Regions from separate parts of the Homo sapiens genome. Here region 1 is linked to region 2. The links come from fine-mapping of genetic effects on gene expression. Tissue or cell type: whole blood. Region 2 holds a variant in brackets; the other region holds the start of a gene. All regions are shown on one strand. Distances are between the middles of the regions.

What was found. PIP is the estimated chance that this variant, and not a neighbour inherited with it, causes the effect.
Region 1: PPM1F starts here. The variant in region 2 is fine-mapped to the expression of PPM1F in whole blood (TOPMed, PIP above 0.99).

Annotation. Positions count from the first base shown.
Region 1 is chr22:21,947,335-21,957,207 of GRCh38, reverse strand. It overlaps PPM1F (protein phosphatase, Mg2+/Mn2+ dependent 1F), which reads left to right and starts at 4,360. Exons shown (of 8, transcript NM_014634.4): 1 at 4,360-4,416. It overlaps TOP3B (DNA topoisomerase III beta), which reads left to right. Exons shown (of 18, transcript NM_001282112.2): 18 at 1-183. The coding sequence ends at 94. RefSeq lists a silencer at 4,168-4,577 and enhancers at 4,571-5,091, 5,138-5,207.
Region 2 is chr22:21,980,767-21,990,639 of GRCh38, reverse strand. TOP3B (DNA topoisomerase III beta) reads left to right here and starts at 7,853. Exons shown (of 18, transcript NM_001282112.2): 1 at 7,853-7,910. RefSeq lists enhancers at 7,674-7,968, 7,466-8,452. The variant G/A (reference allele first, on the strand shown) is at 4,666.

The DNA.
Region 1 (9,873 bases), 33 kb after region 2:
TCGAGGGCGGGGCCGGGCCAGGAGGCCCCCTGGGAAGCCCAACCCCAGACGGCCCAAGGACAAGATGTCAGCCCTGGCCGCCTACTTTGTATGATGACCCTGTCCTCCCTCACCCAGGCTGCAGTGCCATGCAGACACCTCATGGCACTTCAAACTATTAAAATGCATTTTATCTTATCCAGAGCTGGGGCCCCTTTGCTGGTGCAGCGATGTCAGAGCGTTACCGTGTCCCTGGGCACCTGTGGGGCCCTCTCTCCCTCTCCGAAACCCAATACGTCTCCCTTCAGCCTGCATACACGTGCCCAGAGTGCTCCCTGCTATCCCTACACCCTGGCAGTACGGGCAGGGATGCCCCAACCCTGAAGCCCTGGGGAATAGACCCAGTTTGCACTCACACCCCATCTCAATCCGTGCTGCTGATGGTAGCTGTGTGCACAAGCAGTGGCCCTGATGCCTTAAGGAAGGCGGCCTTGACAGCTGTGGCTCCGGCAGGAGAGGAGTCTAGTGGAGCAGGTGGGGCTGGGAGACCCCCTCCCCGGATCTGGCTTATGAATCCCCTTGGTCTTCGCTGCAGCCCCCTGCTCAGGGCCACGCTCTTGACCCCACACTTCTCCGTCCCCTGCTCCCTGCTCCCATCTCTGAGAAGCCCTGTACATGGTGCCCGTGTGCGTCTGGCAGCTTCCCAGGACCTGCTGCAATTCCCATTCTCACAACAAGCCCTTATGGTCTTAGAGGCAGCTGGGTGCCCCATGGAACCCATTCACATGCCAGGTTTAGAAAATACCCTGTAGGCCAGACTGCCGTGTGGTGCCAGGTGCTGGTGGCAGCTGCCCTCTGACCTCAGTGCCTTCTTGTGCTCCCCTCCCCAGCCACCCGAGGAGAGACACCTGTGCGGGATCCACTGTGTGTTGGAAACTCCCTCCACACTCCGCCCGTGCCTCATTGAGTGATGACGGGAGCTCAGCAAAACAGCTTTCCAGACTGTTCAGTGGGACCTTTCTTTGAGGGGCAGGTCAGGAATGTTTCGGACTCAGACCCGCCCCCGCCCCAACTCAGTAGTAGATTCCCAGGCTGCACCAGGACTTATATGAGAGCTCCTGTAAGGAAACCCAGAGCCCACCAAGCATACCCCCCCTGGACCCCCTTCCTGGAGGCCCTCACAGGTTAACACGGGGGTTCCCTGGAACACAGTTTGGAGAGCTACTCGAAGCTGAATGAAAATACAGAGACATGGGGAACCACATAGAGGGTCCTGGGATGTGTCTCAGAAGCACAGGCTTCAGGAAGGAGGGGGTGCTCTCAGAGCTTCTGCCCCCTCCCACCCACTCTGGTCCCATTCTGGGGCCCTAGCAAGGCCACACCTGTTAGGTCCCCAGTGCGGGGCTGTGACTCTGCTCTTCCACCCACAGGGCCCAGTGGACCTGGAGCCTTCTCCGCAGAAGGTTTCAAGACCTCCAGGACCCTTAGGTTATAGGGCTCATTCAGGCTTGGAGGAGCAGAGACGGTTCCTAGGTCTTAAACCCAGACCACCCAGTCCTTCCTTACTATGCTTCTGCACTGCGCTTTCAGCCACAGGCAGGGCTAATCACAAAGTGTTCCTTTATTTTCCTCTGCAGTTGTCCCTTGTGTGTGACCCTCCTTCAAGGCCCTTGGCTTCCGCAGCTTGATTCTGCACTCCGAGTCCATTCACCTTCTCCCATCCAATAGCATCCAACCCCGCTGCTACTGCTGCCAACCTGGCCTTGGGAGCAATGAGGACAAGGAAGGGACAAGACCCCTTTTAGGCCAGAACTGCCTTCAGATCAGCCACGCTCCATGGGACTGTACCTCTGCCCTGGAGGCTGGAGAGGTCAGTGGCTGCAGACTGTCTCAAGGAGCCCCTGGCCCTGCCCACCTAGCCAGGGGTGCAGCCTTGCCAGAGAAGCAGAGAAGCGTCTGTGGCTGGGTGGGTGATATTGAAAGATTCCTTTCACCAGGGTGGAAGCCAGGATCTGAGGCGTGATGGAATGTGGACAGTGAGGCAGTGACAGCGCCACAAGGCAGGAGTCATCTCCAGGCACGTCCTTGGCCTGGAGCCCATAGGGACAAGCTCCTGGTGGTGCCTCACTTTGCCATCCTCTCTAAGCCGCAGACCTTGAATGGAATCAGTGCTCAAGAGTCTAATTGGGCCCACTCTGAGGATGCCTGCGGGAATATCAGCTTTTACCGCACCACACTGCACTTTACAGTGTGGGAGGGCCTGCCCCACGCACCACCTCACCTGTACTGCGGTTCTCAAACTTCACCCTACAGCCATTCTGTTGTAGGTGATCTCAGGGGCAGTTTGAGAAACAGTGGCTCAGGGTCTCACAGCAGCCCTCTGAGATAGGTTGGTTGCTATTGTCCCGATTTTTTCTCATCAAGAAACTGAGGCTCAGGTGAGCTAAGGAATGTGCCCAGGGCCACTGTTTATAAGAAGTAGCCTCAAGCCTTGCTCATGGTTACTGCCCTGACAGGGATCTAGGAAAGAGTGAGCAGGAGAATGGGATGAGGCAGGACCCTCCGCCCCAGCCCTGCTTTCTCTGCCCAGACACCTCCTGCCTTGCAGACCCAACCCCACCCCAGATGGTTTCCTTTCCAGTCACCCAGCTGCTAGTTCTCCAGGTTCCTGGTCTCACTCCAGGTTCCTCCTGTTAGAGAAGCATCCCAGAGACATTCATTCCTGGCAAGGACACAGGCCTGCGGACCTGAAGGTCAGGTGGGCAGAGCCACATAAGATCTGGTGCCCCATCCTCCATTTAAAAAATTATACTTTCCAACGGCATTGGTATAAAGGTGAATATATTAATATCATATATTAAAACATTTTCTTTGACATAAAGGTTTCTTTCTTCTGCCTTTAAAATAAAATATTTTGGCCAGGTGTAATGGTTCACACCTATAATCCCAGCACTTGGGAAGGCTGAGGCAGGAGGATCACTTGAGCCCAAGAGTTCAAGACCAGCCTGGGCAACATAGAGACCCTGTCTCTACAAATTTTTTTTAATCAGCTGGGCGTGGTGGTGCTTGCCTGTGTTCCCAGACACTAGGAAGGCTGAGGCAGGAGGGGAGGGTCACTTGAGCCCAGGAGTTTGAGGCTGCAGTGAGCTGTGATCATGCCACTGCACTCCAGTGTGGGCACCAGAGAAGGAGCTTGTCTCTAAAAAGAGAGAAAAAGAATATTTTCAAGAGCCTCTGTGTTGGCAGAAAAATGGCCCTTCAGAGATGTTCATGTCCTATACCTGTGCCTGTGTTAGATTACATGGCAGACCCGGCATAGTGGCTCACGCCTGTACTGTAATCCCAGCACTTTGGGAGGCCGAGGCAGGCAGATCATTTGAGGTCAGGAGTTTGAGACCAGCCTGACCAACATGGTGAAACCCCATCTCTACTAAAAATACAAAAAAAATTAGCCGGGCATGGTGGTGCGTGCCTGCAGTCCCAGCTACTCGGGAGGCTGAGGCAGGAAAATCGCTTGAACCAGGGAGGCAGAGGTTGCAGTGAGTCGAGGTCATGCCACTGCAGTACAGCCTGGGTGACAGGGTGAGACTCCGTGTCAAAAAAAAATAATAATAATAATAAGGGGCAAAGGGGAATTAAGGTTGCTAATCAACTGATTTAGAGAGATGATGCTGGACTATCTGGGTGGGCCCAATGGCATCAGGAGGGTCTTTAGAAGTAGCAGAAGGAAGCAGAGGAGGGAACCAGAGGTGGCAGTGTGAGAAAGGCTCAACTGGCCATTGCTGGCTTCGAGGCTGTAGGAAGGGGCCACGAGCCAAGGTATGCAGGGAGCCCTTAGGAGCTGGAAAAGGCAGGGGAACAGTTTCTCCCCTAGAATCCTCAGAAAGGAACGCATTCTGGCGATCCCTGGATCTTCGCCCACTGAGGCTAAGTGGACTTCTGACCTCCAGAACGGAAAGATAACAAAAGCCTCAACGTTTGTGGAAACAAACAACTCATAATGAGCCTGGGACTGTGCCTCCTTCCCGGACGGATGAGCCTGCCTGGGCAGTCTGGGTTTGCATCCCTGCTCTGTCACTTACCAGCTATTGACGGCAGAAGTTGCTTAATTTCTGGGCGCTGTGACCTAGGGATTGCTTTCCCCATCCAGCCGCCCACCCAAAGCTGCAGAAGAGAAGCAAGAGGCTGGTGACTGGGGCGGCTCCGGAGCCCAGGTGGAGCCGCAGTTCGCCTACCACTAAAGGGCCGCAGTCACCGTCCACGTAGCCGCCAGGGGGCAGCAGAGGTCCGGCCCCGCCAGCCTGGAGGCCCGACTGCGCCTGCGCGGCGCCCGCGGCGCCCGCGGCGGCCAGGGACGGGAAGTGGGCGGGGCCGGCCGGCAGCAGCTTGCGGGACACGGAGCCGCGAGGAGACAGCTGAGGCCCGCGGAGACCAGGGGTGAGGAGGCCGGGGGGGACGGGATTAGAGGGCTGACGGGGCTGGGACGAGGGTCAGGCGAGCGCCCAAGGCGCACAGGGGTGAAATGGGACCGAGGAACCGGAGGGGTGGAATCAGAGGGCTGGGGAGGCAAGGAGGCCGAGACGAGGCTCACATGGGTGCACCGAAAGGGTGCGGGGGTGCAGTGCGGGGGGCCGAGGAGCAAGAGGGGCCGCTGCGGACATGAGGAACCCGAGGCTGGGAGTTGGGGGGCTGGGGAGCCAAGGGGGCAGAACTGGGGGGCAGGCGGGGGTGTGGCCGAGCCGAGGGCCTGGTAGGGACCGAGGGCTATGAGGCAGAATCGGGTGCTGAGGGGGACGCGCCCCATTTTCCGAGATTTGGCCTCTCCCCACCCCCCAGGAGCCTCTGGGCCGGCACGTTGCCCCATATCCCCCCAGTCCCTGCACCTTCAGGGGCCCAGTCTGCCTGATGGCCCCCGGCTCCGCGGCCTCCCAAGCGTCCGTGAAGCGAGCGTCAGCTGCACAAGTGCTCGGGCTGCAGCTGCTTCAGCCACAGGTCTGTGAGCCAGAGCCTCAGGCGCGGAGGCCGGGCACATTGCCGCTGGGTTCGGTCAGGCAAGCCCCTGAACCTGTCTGTACAACAGGAAGAACTGGCTCCGGCTGCAGGGATTTCGGCACAGCGCTTGACACACAGTGAGGCCCACTGCATGGTGGCGGGCTCCTTCGAAGCCTTCCACCCTGCGGGACAGAGTCACACATGTCGTGGTGGCATTCCCCGGGACAAGTTCTCTGGGCCCAGCTGAGCTCTCACCACGGGGGATAGAAAGTGGGGCCGGCCAGCACTCTGAGGCCATCTCCAGTCTCTTCTGTTGTCAAATTTCGCTCTTTTCCTCCTGCACGCGAGGTGGAAATACCAAAGGCATTGGGCATCCAGAGACCTTGATTGAGTTCGCTTTGCCCTTTCACCTGTGTGAGACCTTAAATGGGTGCTTGCCCTCCTATAACCTATTTCTTCATCTGCAGTGTAGCCTGACAGTATGTACTTCTCAGCGTAGTTGTGAGAGGTAAACAAAACGAATGCATTTCTGAAAGCCATGAACCTCTACACAAGTTCATTTGTGGAATTCCTTTAAGATACCCCCTGAAGGCCGGGCGCGGTGGCTCATACCTGTAATCCCAGCACTTTGGGAGGCCGAGGCAGGCATATCACCTGAGGTCAAGAGTTCCAGACCAGCATGGCAAAATCCCATCTCTACTAAAAATACAAAAATTAGCCGCGCGTGGTGGCAGGTGCCTGTAATCCTAGCTACTCAGGAGGCTGAGGCAGGAGAATTGCTTGAACCTGGGAGGCGAAGGTTGCAGTGAGCTGAGATCCCACCATTGCACTCCAGCCTGGGCAACAAGAGCGAAACTCCCTCTCAAAAAAAAAAAAAAAAAAAAAAAGGATACCATCTGACCTGAAGCCAACCGAGTCTTTTAAGACCTGGCGCTGCTGCCCACTGCACCCTTCAGAGTGGTGTAGCTTCCTCAGCCCATGCCACCCGCCAGTCACTCTTCCCTCTGCCATCACACTTACCACCTGCTGTACACAAAGGGCCATCGTGGGCTCCCTGACTACAGGGAGCTTACAGTCTATCAAGAAAGTCAGGCCTGTAGAAAGAAATGGTCATTGCACAGCAATGTGACTATGCTTAATGCCATGGAACTGTACGCTTAGAAATGGTTAAAAGGATACATAGTGTGTATATTTTACAACAATAAAAAAAATTTATATATGTAGAAAAAAAATCTAGGATTTACATCTAACTATTATTAGTATTAGTAGTTATGAATAAAGAAATAAGAATCTCTTTTGGTAGAAAAAGGTTGGCCAGGCGTGGTGTCTCATACCTGTAATCACAGCACTTTGGGAGGCTGAGGCGGGCAGATCACCTGAGGTCAGGAGTTCGAGACCAGCCTGGCCAACATGGTGAAACCCCATCTCTACTAAAAATACAAAAAAATTAGCCAGGCGTGGTTGTGGGTGCCTGTAATCCCAGCTACTAGGGAGGCTTAGGCAGGAGAATCACTTGAACCTGAGAGGCGGAGGTTGCCGTGAGCCAAGATTGCGCCACTGCACTCCGGCCTGGGTGACAGAGCAAGACTCTGTCTCAAAAAAAACAAAAACAAAAAAAAACAGTTAACATGAATGATGCTTTTGTTACACTATAGTGGTGCAGTTCCCTTTTCTAAGGATTGCTGGGTTTTTTTCATTACCTTGGTTCTGCAGTTAAGCAAGACTCAACAAGTATTTTTTCTATGTCCCCTAAAAAACTGCAGTTGTTAAACCCTGCATTCGTTAAGCTTAGGAGTCAAAACTAATGCACTAGAGGAAAATAAATATTTTAAATTAAAAAAAAAAAAACTTTTTACAAGTCAGATGTGAGCAAAAGTGCCATAGAGACATGAAAGAGAGCATGCTGGATCCAAAGATGGGGAGATTTCAGCAAAGCCTCAAAGGATCTGAGAGATCTCGGGAGGCAAAATGGAAGGAGGGCACCACAAAACAAGGAGGGGAGGGGCTGCCCTAGGGTGGGGGGTACACAGAAATGGAAGGAGGAGCCATGAGAGAGCCAAAGCCCAGAGCTGGTGGCCAATGAGGGACAGGTCAGGGATAGAAGGAGTCAGAATGACTTCCCAGGTGTCATCACAGTTAAGGCCCAGGTTCCCCAGCATGAACCCCACCCTGGGACTTTGGGCAAGTTCCTTAGCTCTTCTGCTACAGCCTGCCCTGTGAAGTGGGGATAACCACAAGAGGTTGTTGGGAGGCTAAAAGCCATCCCAGGAAGAGTGCTCAGAGCAGGGGCGGATGGCAGCTGGCAGCACCGTCAGCCACACCCCTGCAGCTGCCCCCCGATGAGTTTGCTTTGCCATTTCTCACCTATGTGGGACCTTAAATAGGTTCTAGGAGGGTGAGCACCCATTTGGTGTGCAGTGGGGCCCTGATCCAGGAGGAACCAGCTGCCAGTCGCATTTGGTCAGACTGGTCCAGGCAGGCGGTGCTGGGATGCAGGAGTCCAATGTCCCTCCCATGCCCACCCCGGGCTCTTGGTGATTTGCACAGGCTCATGCACACGTCCCTCTTATTCGGAGTTTTTCACTGGTGTGCCCTGCTCAGGAAAGCCCAGCACCAGGCTCCGCTGCCTCTGGTGCTCTCCCAGCTCTCCCTACTCCCTGCGGCTTGCCGCTGGCCTCCATGCCATTCCTGATGCTGTCTCTTCCAGTTGATCCCTCAAAGAACCACAGCACTGTCCCCTGCCCCTCCAGGCACTCCCAGGGCTGCCTCTGGTTTCCCTTGGTGAGGAATTTCTCCTTCCTGCCGGGTGTGCCATGGTGTACGTCAGATTCAGGAGCTTATTGGGAAAAGGAAGGAAATGATTCCTGTCCCTTTCGACATCTGGGCTCCAGGGAGAGAAAGCTGTGTCCTGGTTTCTCTCCTCACCCCTTGCCTTAGGTTGGTGATGCAGAAACAAGGGTGCTTGGTCCCCAGCAAGTAAGATGGCCCTGGGCACCCTGCCTTTGTAACAAGAGCAGGCAGTTGGCACAGGCCCTGAGAGTAAGCCAGCCTGTCCCCTCTACAGATGCAGACAGAGCTTCACACACACACATCATCACACCCCCCAGACCTTACTTAGTACACATGGCACAGACACCATTGAGGCATGTGCAGATAGTGGGCACAAGGCACAGAGAGAGCAGGCAGGTGGCCACAGTGAATCAGGGTCTGTAGTGCAGACAGGAGGAGCCACCCTCCCTGAGGGAACAGGCCGATTGTGGGGAGGGGCTCACGGCACAGGAAAGAGTACCCCAAGGTCAGGAGGCAAGAAGGAGGCACCTGCATCCCAAAAGGTCCAGCAGACGTCACCAGCAAATGGGGTGGAAGTGAAGGGTCTTGAATTCTGCCCTTGACAGTGGGGCTTTACACTGTGGGCAGGGGTTTCTCCAGGGGGGCCCTCTGTGTGCTCTAGCGGGGAGCATGCTGTCCTCTCACTTGGATCCTAATCATAAATTCACATGAGCACATTTTGTGGTGAGACAGTAGAGCCTCCAGATCACTTGGAATTGCAAGGGAGTGGGAGGAGGCCCCAGGCACTGGCAGTTGCTGGGGGCAGCTCTGCATCGTTCACATTCTCCCAGAAGCTCCAGGGGCCAGGGCAGTCCCAGGCAGAAGAGGGGCCCTTGGCCGCTTGCACTGCTTGAGGGCAGCCAAGCTTGCTGGGAAATTCACGCCATCTTCGAATGCCTTACAGCTCTGCTGGGGCATGGCTGGCAGGACGTGCCGCCTCCTCATTGACCTACTAGGGCTCCCAGCCTCTGCTCATTTCTCCAGCTCACAGTCTTCCCTTTGTCGTTTGAATGTCAGTGTCCCTCCTGCTCTCAAAGTGATTTTTCCTTTTTTGCTTTATGTTCTTTTTTTTTCTTTTTTGGTAGAGATGGGGGGTGGGGGGGGGGTGGCGATCTCACTGCCCAGGCTGGTCTTGAACTCCTGGCCTCAAGCACTCCTCCTGCCTCACCCTCCCCAAGCGCTGAGATATAGACCTGAGCCACAGCGCCTTGCCAGTTGTTTTATGTTCTTTATCCTTTTACCTGCTTGCCTTCTGTAACCTGGGTTGCATTAAATTTACTCCTACTTGTGAGTAAATGTGAACCATAGCAATAAATTTAGTCTATCCCCAGAACCTTCAGTAGCAAGCACCCCTATTCCTACGTTATTTGTATGTGTCCACTTTAAATAAATTACCTTTCAATTCTGCCTCTAAAAGAAGAGAAGGGTTTTGTGTTTTGTTAATTTACCACCCTTCACCCCTTGCATTCCAAATCCCTCACTGATCAGACATTTAACTTGGTGCTGGGACCTTTCCCTCTGCCCACCCCATTCTCTTTTGTGTTTTTTATCTTTAGGCTTCCAGAAGGCTTGTTCCAAGTTAGCAATTCCTGATAAGGACAGCCCTCTTGTGGGCTGTGAGCTCCCTGCATCTCTTACTTCCCACTCTCTTCATCCTGCACCTCAGGCCCCTGCCACAGCCGCCCTTTTAGCAAAGTTTGTAGGCAGAGTCTGTGGCTATTCTAAGACTGATGATTCTAGAAGATTCTCCTTGCCTTCTTCGTTCAGTTTTCAGAACCTGGAAGTCCTCATGAAGGTGATGGGCTGTGAAACTGTTCCCCAAATTCTCCACCCTAGAACTCGGGGTGTTCCTCAGAGTCTCATGTCCGTTTGTCACCATAAAAGAATGCAGTTTTTCTCCCTGGCTTAGTAACTGTGTAGGATTTCTTTTTTATTTTTTTCTGGATCCAATCTCATCCACTACTGCGTAGGACTCGCTGAATAAAGTTTCCCAGCCTGAGTGTTAGACAAAGCCCAAGGTGGAGTCCCCGCTGTGGGGAGGGTTTGGAGGGGTCAGGCACCCGAGAGGAAGGG
Region 2 (9,873 bases):
ATCAGGAGTGGCTGCCAAAGCAGGTCAGGGAAGGCACCTCAGAGAGGAGACCTTTGAGTCCAGTCCTGAATCTGTGGCAGAGATCTGGAGTCAGGCACCCTGGGAGGGGCCCGGCAACAGCAGCAGCTGAGAGCTGGGCCTGAGTCTGGCAGGAGAGGACAGGTCAGAGGTTCACAGGCCCAGGCCCCCAGCACCATGTGGGTGGAATATAGTCAAGGCTGATGTAGATGGAGACAGAAGGCAGACGCAGGGGAACTTATGAGTGACCAAGATATGTACAGGGGCTTCATAGAAAGGCCTGGACCAAACTGACACACAGGGCCATAGAAAGCCAGAGTATTACTGCTGGGTGGGAGAAGTTTACAGAGCAGCCTTCAGTCCATTCTGCTAGTCCACTTGTCAGTTTCTGTTTGTTTGCCTGTCCTTGCTGAAGCTCTGTTGTAGGCATCCTGGTTCCACCCATGTAAACCCTGGAACCAGAGATAGGTAAGAAAGCCTCACTTAGCGGAAGGGTCCTCAGTGCCTTGCTTGCTGAGTGCTGCTTCCATCCAGGCGAGGGAGCTTGCCTGCTCTCATGAGCCATCTTGCAGCAGCCTCAGCGCCTCCTGAACTACCCTGACTCCAGGTTGTGATAGTGCCCAGCAGATTCCTCATAGGATTCCTACAGAATAGCACAGTCCTTGTGCACCCACCTTCCTCTGTGTATCGGTCACGCTCAGAGGGCCAGTCCAGAGGCCATACAGTCATCTCCAGCAGCCTGGCCTGCGAGTGGAGCATGGTGATTTTTCACATTGTCCATTTAGGTAACAAGTACTTGCTAAGTGCCTCCCAGGTGACAGGTACTTTTGCAAGGGCAGAGGATGCAGCAGAAATAACTCCAAGTTCGTGCCCTAGTGGAGCATGGGCTCCATGCAGATAAGCAAGCTGGCAGGTAAATGACACGTCTTCAGATTGAGAAAGGGCAAAACAAAGGGAGTGGGGCCCGCTGCTGAGGGGTGGAAAGGGAACTGTTTGCGATAAAGTACACACAAGGTCTGTGTTAGAGCAGAGACTAGAATGGAGGCAAAACCTCCAGGCAGAGGAACAGAAAAGCGCAAGTAGAGGAAGATCGAGATACCGAGAAATGCACTGGGGGCTCGATGTACTGTGCCGTTCCTTGCTGTGCTGAAAAAATCAGATGCCTCCCCAAACCCTGACTGGCTAATTGCCTCTGATCCACACAATGCGCCTCTCTCCGATGCAGCCACGCAGGCATGTAACTGCAGCTGCTCCACATGACACTATCAGAGCGTAAGATCAGATTGCATGAATGAAATCCCATTGCTTCCTGTAGGTACCTTCTGGTGACATGTCTTTCCAGCAGTGTCAGGGCACAGGTGCTGCCATGACCTCAGCCTCGCTTTCCTCCTTACCCTGACCACTCACTTTCTTCTTGCCTGAGTCAGTATTGCTCTTTAGTCAGATATGGGAGGATGCTTGCTCCTGGAAGTATCTGGACCAAATTTCCCCAAGATCATAAGACCTTCCTCCTGCTGCACCCACTTGAGAGCTTGCTTGAAGGTTTCCTGCAGTCCAGGCCGAGGGTCAAAACTCAACCTCTGGGTTGGGGTTAGGAGAGCTGACTGTGATTTGCATCCACTATTTTGTGCCTCAGTTTCTTCATCTATGAATTTAAGAATTTTGAATCACAAAGTTAATCATAGTCCTTACCTCACACCATTACGTGTGTGTTGAATAAGTTACTTATTTAGAAGGGTTACATGCTGAGAACAGTGCCTGGCATCTAGTAAACCCTCTTGGAAAAGAAGGGACACTTCTGAGTTCCCATAGCAAAGTAGAGTGGTCAGAGGAACCTGGCTGGGAGGCTTGGTGGGAGCATTCAGGGAAATGATCCATGGAAAATCTTCGGGAGAGTGGTGGTCATGTGGGTCTTTTTCAATAAGTCCTTCCCCATCTTGGTGGTGAGTGGACAGTCATCTCCAGGGGATCCCTAGGAAGAAGCAGTAGGTGCACGATGCACCAGCAAGCCCCACGCAGGCCTCAGTCAAGAGAGGAAATGCAGGAAAGAGGAGAGGGAGAGTGGAAAAAGAAGGGAGGGAGGGAGAAAGCCAAACATTTCAGTAGGATTAGAGGAAAAGAATGGGTTGCCTGCTGTTGCCCTGTAGAAGCAGGACTGTGGTGGGTAGGGATCTCTGGGCCAGGGCCAGATCAACTGCTTTCCCAGATATTCCCTGCTTCCAAAGCATCCTCCTGCCTCGGCCTGCACCACACCCACTTCCACACACAAAGGCAGCATGTGCCAGCTCCCCAGAAACAACCGAGGAAGCAGGTGGCGCCTGCACCCCCAGAAACCACTCACGCCATCACTACAGAGACACTGTGCACCCTGCAGCATTAGGGGTGTTGCTTGTACTATTTGGCAAAGTCAGCTTGGAGCACAGAGAAAGTTATCTGAGTAATGGATACGTGTTTGGGTCTTTCAGTTAACCCCTGACTCTTGGTCACTGCAAACATGAAACCAACATGATTATCAAAGTAGTGGTGGCCAGCCCTTGACTGTTGACTGTCATACACTGTGCTGTGTGTTTGATATACATTTTCTGAGATAATTATCACAGATCACTAGAAAGTAAGGCCCAAGAGAGCAGACTTTTTTTCCGTTTCATTCACCATCGTATCCACAATGCCTGGAAATTAGTAGGTACCCAAAAAATACTGGATGAGTGTGAGAATAAAGGAAGATATGAGTGGACAGATGTTTTCCAACATGGCTATTGCGGCGAGCTCTCAGAGATGTTCCTTCTCTCATTTCCATCTATCTCATGGGCCTGTCTTGGGCTCCTGTGGCTTTGTACTAGCTGGTAACATTTTTATCTCCCCATTCTCTCCTCATCCTCCTTGACTTTTTTTTTAAGGCAAGGTCTCACTCTGTCATCCAGGCTGGAGTGCAGTGGTGCAATCATAGCTCACTGTAGCCTCAACCTCCTGGGAACAGGCCACCCTCTCGCTTCAGCCTCCTGAGTAGCATATGCCACCATGCCCAGCTAATCTTTTTTTTTTTTTTTTTTTTTTAGACAGGGTCTCACTATGTTAGGCTGGTCTCAAACTCCTGACCTCAAGTGATCCCCTCACCTTGGCCTCTGAAAGTGCTGGGATTCCAGGCATGAGCCATTATGCCTGGCCCAATATTCTTGTTTGTTTATTCTTCCACATGAAAGGCACATTCATTTAGTCATATCCCAAAATTACCACTACAAGAATTTCTTCTTAAAATAAGAAAATATTATAAAGAATTGAAATCAACACAATTCATCATTCCAACAGTAATCTGACTTGCCTTTTATGTCACTGGGCAAAATAAAATTTATTATGGATATCGGCTTCATGTTTGTCACTATGATATCCTTTGACATTTTAGGCGAGGCAGGGAGGTAGCTTCTCCTGTGTAAAGAGTTCACTTTTGCCACCATTTATTTACGTGGGTTTTTTGCTGGTGTTCACAGAATATGCTGGCACCTTCTGGTTGTTCTTCAGTTGTTTCTTTTGTGAAGAAAGGAGTATAAAGATATGGTGATGTCTGGCATGGTGGCTCACGCCTGTAATCCCAGCACTTTGGGAAGCCAAGGTGGGCGGATCACGAGGTCAGGAGTTTAAGACCAACCTGGCCAACATGGTGAAACCCCATGTCTACTAAAAATTTAAAAAATTAACTGGGCGTGGTGGCGCACACCTGTAGTCCCAGCTACTCAGGAGGCTGAGGTAGGAGAATTGCTTGAACCCGGGAGGGGAGGTTGCAGTGAGCCGAGGTCGCGCCATTGCATTCCAGCCTGGGTGACAGAGCGAGACTCCGTCTCAAAGAAAAAAAAAAGACATGTTGAGTTCAGGTCATAGGACAGGCTGCCAAGAGCTGTTTCTCCATGTACCCTGCAAATGACTTGGGCTTCTGTGACGTTTTAAGCTCCACCCACTTCTGGGGACAGCAGAGTGACAGAAGTCCCCCTCCCAGACAGGGGAGAAGGATGGCCTCAGCACACAGCCAGTCAATTTCCTGTTCTTCAGCGCAGGTTTCATTGCCCTTTTATTCAAACTTCAAAAAGTAATCTTGGCCAGGCGCGGTGGCTCACGCCTGTAATCCCAGCACTTTGGGAGGCCAAGGCAGGTGGATCACAAGGTCAAGAAATCAAGACCATCCTGGCCAACATGGTGAAACCCATCTCTACTAAAAATAAAAAAATATTTAAAAATTTAAAAAATTAGCTGGGCTTGGTGGTGTGTGCCTGTAGTCCCAGCTACTCGGGAGGCTGAGGCAGGAGGATCGCTTGAACCCAGGGGGTGGAGGTTGCAGTGAGCCAAGATCGTGTCACTGCACTCCAGCCTGGCGACAGAGCAAGACTCCTCTCAAAAAAAAAAAAGTAATCTTTAAGGCTGTGCACGGTAGCTCATGCCCATAAATCCCAGAACTTTGGGCAACAGAGTGAGACCCCGTCAAAAAAAAAAAAAGTGGCTTCTGGAACTAGGTTGCTCTGCCACTTCCATCATTGTGTCCTGCTGGTTCTTTTTTTTTTTTTTTTTTTTTTTTGAGATGGAGTTTTGCTTTTGTTGCCCAGGCTGGAATGCAATGGCATGATCTTGGCTCACTGCAACCTCCGCCTCCTGGGTTCAAGC[G/A]ATTCTCCTGCCTCAGCCTCCCGAGTAGCTGGAACTACAGATGTGCGCCACCATGCCCACCTAATTTTTTGTAGTTTTAGTAGAGACGGGGTTTCTCCATGTTGGTCAGGCTGGTCTCTAACTCCCGACCTCAGGTGATCCGCCCGCCTCAGCCTCCCAAAGTGCTGGGATCACAGGCGTGAGCCACCGCGCCTGGCCTATGTGTCCTGCTTCTTTATGTGTAAAATAAGGATAATAATAATATCTAATTCCTAGTGTTGTAATGAGGATTGTGTCAGTAACAGAACAGTGCCTAGAACAGAGTAAGTAAGCACTGCATGATGTTAACTATTAATAGTATTATCAAAATCATGGACCAGCCTATGCCGAACCAGAGAGAAGAGAGGTCCAGGAGCCCTCAGTTATCCCATCCACCATAACCAGGCACCTGCCCAGTAAGTGAGGAGGGTAAGGAAGAGGAGAAAAGTCAAGACCATGGTGGAAACACCCCAGGGCTCTGCTTCCTGAAGTCCCATGGCGGTGTCTGGGCACCTGAGTTTCTCTCATGGCCTCTGCACACTCCTTAGAGGAGGCCTCTGCAGGCAAGTCTGCTGCTACTCTTTAGGGGAGTCAGTTTCTCCCCAGCCATGGGGAAAGAAGAACGGCCCCTCTCGCTGAGTCGATCCTAGGCCACCATCTCCCTGGTCAGAGTGGAGCTGGGGTTGGGGGGAGTCCCAATAGGGAGACACCTCCAAGTTGAAGGGTTCCTCTGAATCTGGGTCATTTGTCAACCTAAGGGTCAGTCAGAAAGCCTGACCCAAAGCTCTGGCAGAGGGTCAGCTGCAGGGCTCTCCGGGAAGAAAGCACAAGGCAACTGCAGTTTCTCTGCTCTGACCAAGAACACTTCCCGACGCCCTGGCCTTCAGAGCTGACCACTCAGCGCCTCCTGCTGGCCCAGGCCTCAGGTCCTTCCTAGGGCTCCATACAATGAACTCTGGAACTGGATTGATGGAATGAGCTGAGGGCCTCTGGGTTTCTCTTTCAGCCAACTGGTAGCACCCAACAGAGCCAATCTTAGCCCTGGCTGGTATGTGGAGAACACACTGCAGGGCGGCAAGGTGGAGACCTGGAGGGAGAGGAGGAGCTCGGATCAGGGTGGTGGCAGGGAGGCAGGGAGACTTGAGGGGATCTCCGATATACAGTCTTCGATTTAGGACAATTTCCACCTACAGGATTTTTCAACTACAAAACCAGTATGCATTCTGCACGCTTCTTGACTCATGATGGGGCTACATCTGGGTAAGCCCATAGTAAGTTGAAAATACCATAAGTCAAAAACGTACTTTCGAGTCACAATATTTTCAACTTAAGATGGGTTTATGTGGATGTAGTTCCATCTGAAGTTGAGGAGCATCTGTATTGTAAAGACAGTAATGGCAGGATTTGTGGGTGGTCCAGGATGCTCCCAGGCTCTGTCCCTGAGCAACCAGGAAGATGGAGTTGCCATTTTGGAGACGAAGAACCTACCAAGGTGTGGGTTTGGAATCAGGAGTTCTGCTTTGAAAGTGAAGTCTCACCGTGACTCATAATTTGTGACATTTCCAAACCTTAATTTGCCTATAGAACTTTTCTTTTTCCAGAGCCTCTATCCAGACTACTTATTATTTATCAAAATAAATTAGATAAATAAATAACTTAATTTTAGAATTCATCTTCCAGATATACTTTACACAGATCATTCCAATAAAGGCAGGTTGGGGCCCGGGACAGTGGCTCACCCCTGTAATCCCAGCACTTTGGGAGGCCGAGGCAGGAGGATCACTTGAGGCCAGGAGTTTGAGACCAATCTGGGCAACATAGTGAGACCCTCCCCCTAGACCCCATCTCTACCAAAAAAAAAAAAATTAATTGGCTGGGCTTGGTGGCTGGCACCTGTGGTCCCAGCTACTGGGGAGGCTGAGGTGAGAGCATCGCCTGACGCCAGGAGATCGAGGCTGCAGTGAGCTGTGATCTCGCTACTGCGCTCCAGCCTGGGTGACAGAGTGAAACCCTGTCTTTAAAAAAAAAAAAAAAAAAACAGCAGGTTGGGAAAATCTACAAGGAACAAGGGCAATGTGTGTATGTTATTTAAAATAAGATCATAAAACGTATTTTAAACCTTCCATAATCCTAATGCTCTAACAAATAAATTAGTTGGCCGAGCGTGAAGAGTCACACCTGTAATCCCAGCATTTTGGGAGGCCGAGGGAGGCGGACCACCTAAGGTCAGGAGTTCAAGACTAGCCTGGTTAACACGGTGAAACCCCCGTCTCTACTAAAAATATAGAAATCTTTGGGAGGCCAAGGCGGGCGGATCACGAGGTCAGGAGATCGAGACCATCCTGGCTAACACGGTGAAGCCCCGTCTCTACTAAAAAAATACAAAAAATTAGCCCGCGTGGTGGCAAGCGCCTATAGTCCCAGCTACTTGGGAGGCTGAGGCGAGATCATCGCTTGAACCCGGGAGGCGGAGGTTGCAGTGAGCCGAGATTGCGCCACTGCACTTCAGCCTGGGCAACAGAGTGAGACTCCGCCTCAAAAAAAAAAAAAAAAATATATATATATATGTATACACACACATATATATACATACACATATAAATTAGCTGGGCGTGGTGGCGCACGCCTGTAATCCCAGCTATTTAGGAGGCTGAGGCAGGCGAATTGCTTGAACCTGGGAGGCGGAGGTTTCAGTGAGCCGAGATCACACCACTGCACTCCAGCCTGGGCGACAAGAGTAAAACTCTGTCTCAAAATAAATAAATAAATAAATAAATAAATAACTTAATTTTAGAATTCATCTTCCAAATATATTTTACACAGATCATTCATTCATTCCACAGATTTTTTTACAGCATCGAAAAGAAGCCTGCTATACACACATCGGTACATTTTTATTATTTTAATTATTAACAGCATAAATGTTTTCATGCCAGTTTTCATAATCATTGTAATGATAATTGTCATGATTGTCTCTCCGTGGCGGGGAAGAATCTGGGTGCAGGGCTTGGGGATCCCTGCGGTCCGCGGCGTGCAAGTGCCACTCCCTGGGGTGCTCCCGGAATCCGCGAGCCACGGAACCTAAGAACGCCGACCCGCCGGAGCCGGAGGGCAGACGCTGGCACACCGGACGCGGGGACGCCAGAAGCGGCTGGACCCGGAAATAGGGGTTGTCGGTAGCCGCCCCGGGAACAAGGACCGGAGCTGGATCCGCGGTGCGGCTGTGGGTGAGCGGCGGGCTGCGGGACCCTCGCCCGGCGGCTCAGAAAGGCGGGAAGCGCACGCATTTTTCTGGCTTGTTTCCTGAACGTTGGCCGGCGGAGGACCCGCGAGCTCGGGAGAGCGCCCGGGCCGGGCTCTGCATTCTTGTTGCCTCTTCCCTGGCGGGGGTGATACTCTCCCGCGGGGCTTGCTGTGGGGGTTCAGGGAGGTGGAGATGGGCCCGCCATGTGCCTGCAGGGAGCAGGCGCTGTGGTTAATACTTTTCTTCTTCGAACCCTCCCACAGCTCTTTAGGGTGAGATCTGCTGTACCAGTCTCACAGGTAGGGAAACTGAGGCTCAGGGAAGCTGTGCAGCCACCGGGGCCCAGATCGGTGCGGTACACACCCAGGCAGCTTCCACTCGCCGCCCCCTAGGCCCTGGCTGGGTTTTGAGGGCACCCAGGTTCTCTGACCTGTTATCTGTAAATGAAGTAGGGTACTTTTGTGAACAAATTAGCTGGAATCCAGGGGCAATAATTTCTCGCAGAAGTGAAAGGTAAGATGTTCCTAGTCTTGCCTTTTTATCTTCTCACCTTTTGAAACAGGACCTGAGAGGCCAGCCTAACTTGGGCTTGATGGCCAGCCAGTCCTGGGATTCTTTTGCCAAGGTCACCTGACACTAGTGTGACTTGTTCTGAACCTCCATTTACTCACAGTTTTAAAAAATTACAACACCTGCCTTATGGGGTTGCTGGCGAGATTGAATAGTGTTGATAGCTATGGTGTGCCTACTACAAAGGAGGAGCTTAAGAAATGGTTGTTTCCCTCTTTTCCTGATTCTAGAAGCATTTGGTAAAGTTACTGAGGTGGTAAATCCTAGGAATTTTAATGCTATTCAGACCACTGCTAGGCCTACTCCCAGGCCACATCTGCTTGTTTCTTTTTTTGTTTGTTTTGTTGCAGGCAGAGTCTCACTCTGTCACCCAGGCTGGAGTGCAGTGGCGCGATCTCAGCTCACTGCAACCTCCGCCCCCGGGTTCAAGTGATTCTCCTGCCTCAGCCTCCTGAGTAGCTGGGATTACAGGCATGCGCCACCACGCCCAGCTAATTTTTGTATTTTTAGTAGAGACCAGGCTTCACCATGTTGGCCAGGCTGGTCTTGAACTGCTGACCTCGGGTGATCCACCTGCCTCAGCCTCGCAAAGTATTTGCTCACTGTCTATTTACCGTGAGAATGCACAAAGCAAAACCCGTGTTCTCCTGCTGCTTACTTACTTTCTAGGAGCTGTAAGACAAGAGCTGAATAAGTAGATGGAAGCTGTACCAAGTGTAGTGATGAGTGCTACAAGGAAGCAAAGCTGGGCTGCTGTTCCATCAGAGTGCTCACAGAGGCAGGACAGGATCAGGCTTGGGGCACGGGTTCTAGAACAACCAAGTCCAGCCACTGGAGCTCTGGTCTCTCTGACCCCACAGTCCCAGTCTAGGCCAATAAAATGGCAGCACCTATTAGCATCCCTGCCTAGGATGCTGGCAGGACTGCCTGGTCCCTGGTGTGTCCTCATTATGTCATACATAATTGCTGACTACTCTGTGGCATAGACATGAGAAAATCTGAGGAAACATTTTAGGACAAAATTTCCTACTTTGGAAGAGATGGGAAACTCAGACCCTCACAGAACAATGCCCCTCTGCTGCGAGTTTTCCCTTTTGGCCTCTGGCTTCCCAGGGTGAGAGAAGGGGAGTCCCTAAATCTCTTTTAAACCTCACTTCTGGGCCTCTGATTTTGGTAGAATCAAAACTTCCCCAGAACGGAGAGCAGAGGCCAGTCATAATCACCTTGGTTGTTCATTCATTCCCTCAGCAGGCATTTAGTGCATGCTGGGTGCCAGAAATATGGCAATGAACCTGACAATTGTGGGAGAGACAGACTGCTGACGCCAGATGCAGTCTTCAGGAGGGGAGGGGCAGGGGTCAGAGCAAGTAGACTAA